Linked DNA regions of Homo sapiens. The protein of the gene in region 1 interacts with the protein of each later gene in a pairwise test. Each region holds a gene or a part of one and is shown on either strand. Other genes may lie near its edges.

Evidence for each region. The genes of interacting proteins can lie anywhere in the genome.
Region 2: the proteins of FUCA2 (region 1) and LCE4A interact in binary tests that used the Homo sapiens proteins (3 or more experiments, as listed by UniProt).

The regions. Positions count from the first base shown.
Region 1 is NC_000006.12:143,505,062-143,508,813, reverse strand, and holds part of FUCA2 (plasma alpha-L-fucosidase precursor), read left to right. Parts: intron 1-1,389; coding exon 1,390-1,577; exon of another isoform or gene 1,578-2,844; intron 2,845-3,356; exon of another isoform or gene 3,357-3,398; intron 3,399-3,752. UniProt on the Homo sapiens protein: Alpha-L-fucosidase is responsible for hydrolyzing the alpha-1,6-linked fucose joined to the reducing-end N-acetylglucosamine of the carbohydrate moieties of glycoproteins.
Region 2 is NC_000001.11:152,706,471-152,710,049, reverse strand, and holds LCE4A (late cornified envelope protein 4A), read right to left. Parts: upstream 1,891-3,579; 5' UTR 1,656-1,890; intron 1,004-1,655; exon of another isoform or gene 996-1,003; 5' UTR 975-995; coding exon 675-974; 3' UTR 616-674; downstream 1-615. UniProt on the Homo sapiens protein: Precursors of the cornified envelope of the stratum corneum.

The DNA.
Region 1 (3,752 bases):
TCTCACATAACAGGAAATTTAGAGTAGTCGGTTCATTGATGAAATCAAAGACACGGGCTCTTTCTTTCATCCTCAGCCTGGGGACTTGTCCCTTCATGGTCACAGGATGGCAGCCAGGCACCATAACTTCACACAACCCTGCCCAAAGGCAGGAAGGCCAGTGTCTCTTTTCATTAGGAGGGAAACCATTTCCACAGTCCCCAAAGTTGGCTTTCCCTCAAGTTCCCTTGGCCAGCATGGATCTCACATCCCTGTCGCAGCTGTAGTGGAAGCTGGGAAATTACGTAAATACGACTTTTGGGCAGGCAAACAGCATGCCTGCCGCATAGTATGCCCTTCAATTATTTCTTCTTAGCAGAGTCTCCTGATCGTCTTGGGAAATATAGTGCTGATTATGGATTTGCTTATCCTGTAGAAATACTCATATGAAAGGAATGGTGATAGAAAAAGCAGGAGGTGGGTCAAAAATGGGGGTTGCATCTATTTCATGAGGATAGTTACTGCTGTGTTTATCTAAAATGTGTAGATGTGCTTTTCCTCATGAAGTCTTGCTTACGCAGTTTAGGGTCAATATACCATTGCTTAGAATGAATGCGTATAGCAAGTAATTGTTGAAGGTTGAGTCCATTTATTAAAATAACAGCATCTTTTTAATTTTACTTTTGCCTCCCTTTCTGTCCTGTGCCTCCAAAGTGTTCTCTACTACTGAATATAATAGATGCATATTATGTTTTAGGCATGTAGTCTTCCTTTTAGAAGCCCTAATCACTTATGTTACAAGGGACAATGTGTAAAGACATATACTACATGTTGTGATTTAAAAGTGAAGAATTAAAAGAGAATGGGGCTGGACACGGTGACTCATGCCTGTAATCCTAACACTTCGGGAGACTGAAGCAGGAAGATCGCTTGAGCCCAGGAGTTTAAGACCAGCCTGGGCAACATATGGAAACCACATCTCTACAAAGAAAAAAAAAATAGCCAGGTGTGGTGGCACGTGCCTGTGGTCCTAGCTACTCAGGAGGCTAAGGCGAGAGGATTGCTTGAGCACAGGAGGTCAAGGTTGCAGTGAACCATGATTCCATTACTGCATTCCAACCTGAGTGACAGAGTGAGACCCTGTCTTAAAAAAAAGAGAGAATGGGTAGCTGAGTTGCCTAGAATGCTCTAGTTTATGAGCTGAGTGGATATCACAGGGGGATAGGTGGAAAATGAGAGGGGGTTTAGTTTGCATAAGCTATCTTTAAAGCCAAGTCAAACTAATGGGGAAGTGAGAAAGAGAATCTGGGTCCTATCTGTGTGAGGGGTAAATGGTAAGGGGAGCTGGAGCAGTTCTTTTAAATATGTGTGTATGTGCTGTTTATGCACTCTTTCCTTTCCTCCCCTTAGGTGGTATTGGCAAAAGGAAAAGATACCGAAGTATGTGGAATTTATGAAAGATAATTACCCTCCTAGTTTCAAATATGAAGATTTTGGACCACTATTTACAGCAAAATTTTTTAATGCCAACCAGTGGGCAGATATTTTTCAGGCCTCTGGTGCCAAATACATTGTCTTAACTTCCAAACATCATGAAGGTAAGTCAATCCAGCCTATGGAAATTGCTGACAATGGTTAAGAAATGAAAAGTTGTTCTTTTGGAAGAAAAAACTAAAGCAAGGTCTAATTTTCTCTTCGGAGCAACCATAAGTGGTGACTGGCACTTGCTTATGACTTAGGGACTGCACATTCAACCCAAATTGAGAGATGTTAGGAATACAGAAAGGATCATACCCGCCACGTAACAGAGGAAAGATGGTCACGTTTTGTCACATGTATTTTGAACAATATTTCCAAGATTTACTTAAAGCTGTTTGTTGAAGGGAGTGTGGGTTGCAAGTCAAAGTTCATCTTGGAATTGCACTCTTTCCTTCCCCTTCTCTGTAATGCATCCTGTGAATGCATCATGGGGATTATACTGCTATAGTCTTGCATCATTACGACACACCTGGCTGCACTTTTAGCCAACTCTTAGCTGGCCAAATGGTGCAAATAGTGGATGAACTGATAGTGATGAAAGTGATGAAAGTGACCCAGATCACCTGGAGGGAAAAGGATTGTGGAACTGTAATGGTTTCCAGAAAAATCAGAGGTGGTAGAAGAATATCTAAACCCCCACACATTTAAAATCCATTCTATTTTAATAGAATGGATTCCACCCATTACCACTCCAGTATTTGTAAGGCCAGGGAAGCATTAACAAATTGTTTTTGTTCCAACGGCTTGTTCATTCATTAGTTTCTTTTGCATGATCATCTTTGCCTTGGTATAAAAAAATTTGCACTGGATGTGGTCGCTCATGTCTGTAATCCCAAAATTTTGGGAGGCCGAGGAAGGAGGATCATTTGAGCCCAGGGGTTCAAGACCAGCCTGGGCAACATAGTGAGACCCTGTCTCTACAAAAACAAACAAACAAACAAAAACTAAAAAATTAGCGTAGTGGTATGTCTCTGTAGTCCCAGCTACTTGGGAGGCTTAGGTTGGAGGACTGCTTGAGGCTGCAGTGAGCGGAGATAGGCTTACTACACTCCAGTCTAGGTGGCGGAGGGAGATCCTGTCTCAAAAAAAAAAAAAAAAAAAAACGGGAAACTTTGCCTTATTGTTTTCTCCAGGGATGGGATGGGAATAGGAGAGGAGAACCAACACAAAAAATCTGGAATGATCATAGGATATTTTTCCCTTTGGCCACATTCTGGTAGCTTCATGATTTTCTCCTGTAGATATTTATCCTGCTGAGATGAATGTCTATCAAGTGTATTTGCTTGAGAACATGCTGATTTCCTGATGTCTAGGAACTTTCCCAAGCTGTATGGCACAAAACATTACATAGTGAGTTTATTTAATAAAAATTGTTAATCAAACTGTGAGGAGAGATGATGTAGCCCACATGTATACATTTTCTGGGACCCATGTTGTCAGATGTTTTCATTGCTCATGGAAAATGCATACTAAGCTCAGGAAGGAACGTCGCAGTGTAAGCTTATGGTGGTGATATTCAAATGAAGACTCAAGTGGTTTTAGTACTGTCTGACATTAGGGCCTGTCAAGTTGAGTAACTTTGAGTATGACTTTAGATATCAACACTGCTCTGAAGCTTACCACAGAAATGATAGGAACAAGAGTGAGCTGTTTTAAAAAGCTTATTAAAATGAATCTAAGGCTAGGTGCAGTGGCTCACATCTATAATTCCAACACTTTGGGAGGCCAAGGAAGGAGGATTGCTTGAGGCCAGGAGTTTGAGACTGGCCTAGGCAGCAAAGTGAGACCCTGTCTCTGAAAAAATAGACAAAATTAGCTGGGCGTGGTGGAGTACACACCTGTAGTCCTAGCTACTTGGTAGGCTGAGGTGGGAGCATCACTTGAGCCCAGGAGGTCGAGGATGCAGTGAGCGAAGTTCGCACCACTGAACTCCAGCCTGGGTGACAGAGCCAGAACCTGTCTCAAAAAAAAAAAAAAAAAAAAAAAAATCGAAAGTATGAGTCATTCTTAGACTTGTTCTAATTTACCAAGAGTAAAATGTTTCACCAAATGTACCTTATAAATGTCTATTCTCAAAGATTCTTTTAGATTTTAGTGGAATAGTAACAATGTATTTAAGTCTCTAGGCACTGATGAAATTTTTGAGGCTTTCATATTTATTATGTTTTAAGTATTTCAGTTTATATATCTCTTCTAACATTTTTATATGGAACAATCAGTAATCTAAATACAAA
Region 2 (3,579 bases), on another chromosome or scaffold:
ACACACACACACACACACACACACACACACACACAGAGAGAGAGAGACAGAGAGAAAGAGAATATTGCTTTAGAAAATGTATGGAGCAGTAAGTACATTTTTTTAACTTAAGTAAATTAGATTTTTCTGTCCAAACAACTTTACTGACTTGGCTATTTCACCACTAATTTTTTTTTAAATTTAAGTTAGGTTTATCTTGGAATTCTAATCAATCCTTATTTATTGTTTTCACAAATACTGCAGAATTTTAGATTTTCGTGAAGGTATGTGTACACAAATAAGTAATTCATTAAAGTTTAATTGGTTGATTTTTCTCTATTTCAGTAAAAGCTATAAATCTATCTTTCTATCTAGGAAAAGGATTGGGATTTAGGTAAAAGTGAAGAAAAGTGGAATAAAAACCACCATCAAACTGGGACTAGAAAATTACTTGAAAGTAAATTTACTGTTGCAAAGCACATCAGAAAATTTTTCAATAATCTGAGAAATATAAATATTGACATAAAGCTAAAATAATGCAAATCCAAGGCCTGAAGTTGATGAGACGCAAACCTGCATGTTTATTCAATTGATGGGGCTACAGAAAGGAAAGGCAAGAGAGTGAAGGAGGTAAAACACCAGGCTGCAATGGGTCCTTCGCCCACTAATTCCTTTGGTGCTGCTCCTGGTCCAGGTCAGCAACAGCCCCCTCCAGAGCAGCAGCCAGAACCCCCAGACTGCTGGCCACTGCCACTGCCATAGCAATTGGAGCTCTTGGGTCTGTGGCAGTGGGACCTATGGTGTCTGTGGTGGCTCAGGCAGCAGCCACCTCCCTCAGAGCTGCAGCAACCACAGCCCCCAGAGCTGGAGCCACAGCAGGAAGAGATTGGAGGTGGGCATGAGGATGCACACTTTGAGGGACATTTTGGGGGATACTTGGGGATAGGACACTTGGGAGGGGGCTGGCACTGCTGTTGGTTCTGCTGGCAGGACATCTTGGTGGGATTTCGATAAACCTGAATGACAAAATAGAAACATATACAGAAACTTAATATCAAGAGCCATTACATTTTTTTTTATTTTAAAATCCTCCCCCAAGGTGATGAAGAGGAATATCTAAAATATGGACATGTATAGAAACCTCTTTCAGACAAAGAGTATATCTTCATTACTTTTGTACCCCTAGAGCTTTCAAAAATTCTTAGTATTTGTTAGGTGGTTAATAAGTGACTTCTGAGCTAATAAAGCCAGCAAAATTTGAATGCCATCTCAAAGACATGTTAAATACATTGCAATTCTACCCACATGAATTTATCTAGAAATGGAATTCAGAAATTCGTAGAAAATCTGTTTAATAAATAATAATAAATTTGAGATCTGCACGGTTAGAGAAAAGCTTCCTTCAGAGCAATGGGCTTAGGACCAGCAGGCCAACCATTGGTAGGGATGTAGCAATCCCAGGTCATTCATCATCTTCCTGTCTGATCACAGGGATAATCCTTCCCAGGTTGGTTCCTGCTTTGTCCAGAGCCAACTACTACTTCTGGCCTTCTGGCCTTGTCCACCATGTCATCCTCCTCCTACTCCACGCTTCACTGTTCGACTTCCAGAATTACTCTCCATCTCCATCTTCATCCCGCTAGCGTCCCCCTCTGGATTCCTATAGAAACACTCACCGTGGGTTCAGACGCAGCAACAGATACGTCCCTTAGGAAGCAGAGCAGATGAGAAGCCAGCAGCAGGAACACACTTTGTATGGATCCTGGGGCTGGGCCTCGGATGAGCCATGCTAATGGCAGGAGCAGGACGTGGCTGTTGCACAAGTGTGGGGTCATGCCTGACATTCTCCTGCCTCCTGGTTTCATCTCTTCCTGAGCTGGATGATGAGCTTCCCAGATAGCCTCTTCGGCACTAGTGGGAGAGGGGGTGACTATATGAGACTTTCTGTAAATCAGACCCTTTTCCCAGGCTAAGGTCTCAATGTACAGCAAACAGAGGGGTTTAAGGCTATGGGTACTTACCTTTCAAGCCTCCCTCTGAACACGCTTTGCTCAGTCCCTCAGGAAGAACTTTGGCACCAAAGGCTCCAAGACTGCCCCACATTTAGCCCCTAACATATTCCAGCCAAATTTCAGCCAGAGGCTCTGGGCCTTTCCCAGGTCAGTCAATCCTGAGAGGCTGGTTTGGTGCCATAGGCCTCCTTACTCTTTTAGAGAGTATCTCCCATGCTTTTAGACCAGGCCAAGTCCCCAGTCCTAACTGTGGAGAGAGATGCCCCTCGGTCAGCCACTCTTCTCTTTAGAATTTCTCTTCTATGAACCCTTCAGCCTGGAATTCAAAGGCTATCATATTTGACTACTTCTATTTGGGTTACCAAGGAATGTGTCACCATCAAGGGGCCTTTTGAGTAGGAGTTTCTGAGTTTTTCTGTTGTGTGTTGTGTATGTGATTCTGCTGCATTTAAGTAGCTCATGAGCACAGATCAGAGACTTGAGACTTTTACCAATTCAGGAACCTTTTGTGGAAGTATCTGTCTGTCAACTACACACACACACACACACACAAGTTGCATTTATTGCAACCATTTTTTAAAAAAAGGACTGATTTTTTTTCTTCAACAAACATATAAGAAGATCATTATGAGGAAAATATTTTTCCCATCATAGAAAAAACTCTTCCCTTTTACCCATCAAAACACTCTAAACCAACAAGAAAAAGAAATTTGGTGTGTGTTGCTCTAATTCTCAAAAGGTTTATATAGGATACAACTCTTCATGCAACCCATTAAGATTGATTTATTTCTCCTTATGTATATCATATATGTTATACGTATATACACATATAATCACGAGGTACTTCTGGAAATACCTACTATGCAAAATAGATGTCTAACAATGACAAAAGTTAGCTGATATTAATGAACATGAAGACATTGATAATGATGACAAGGAAGATGACTAAACCCCCAGCCTATATTTCCTCTCTGTAAAGACAGAAATTACCTACTTTTATAGTAATTTCTGCTATTACTAACTCAGAAAATGAGTATTAGACAGCAGGAACGGAATTGTTGTGGAAGGCAGATTTTCTGGCAAGTATTATTGTAGGAATGTCCTCCCATTTTCCATCTCTCTCCCAATCCAGTGCCCCATGTTAATGGTGTTTCTGGCAAGCAAATCATCAGCTATAGAGGGATGTGGTAACAAGCAACAACCTACCACATTGAGCTCTTAATCTGTGACCAGCACTGCCTCAGTTATGTGAGAAATACAATGAATTAACCTTGTTCCTGTCCTCAGGACCTCAGAGTAGAACTGGAGAGAGAAACAGAAACACCTGAGAAGTTAGATAGTGATGCTGAACCTCAACACAAGAGAAACACGGTGTGATTAAAGGAAAATTTCAGGGTTGACACCAGTGGTCCTAGTAGGCAGTCCTAAAACAAAAGATGCCAGGACTCAACTGTAGACAAATTAATTCAGAATTTCTGGGAATAGGGCCCCAGCATTGGTGTTTTTTAAAAGGTCACAAGTTGAATGTGTTGCACAAACAGAGATGAAAGCTATTGGTGTAGCCCTACTCTGCACAATACAGTAGCCA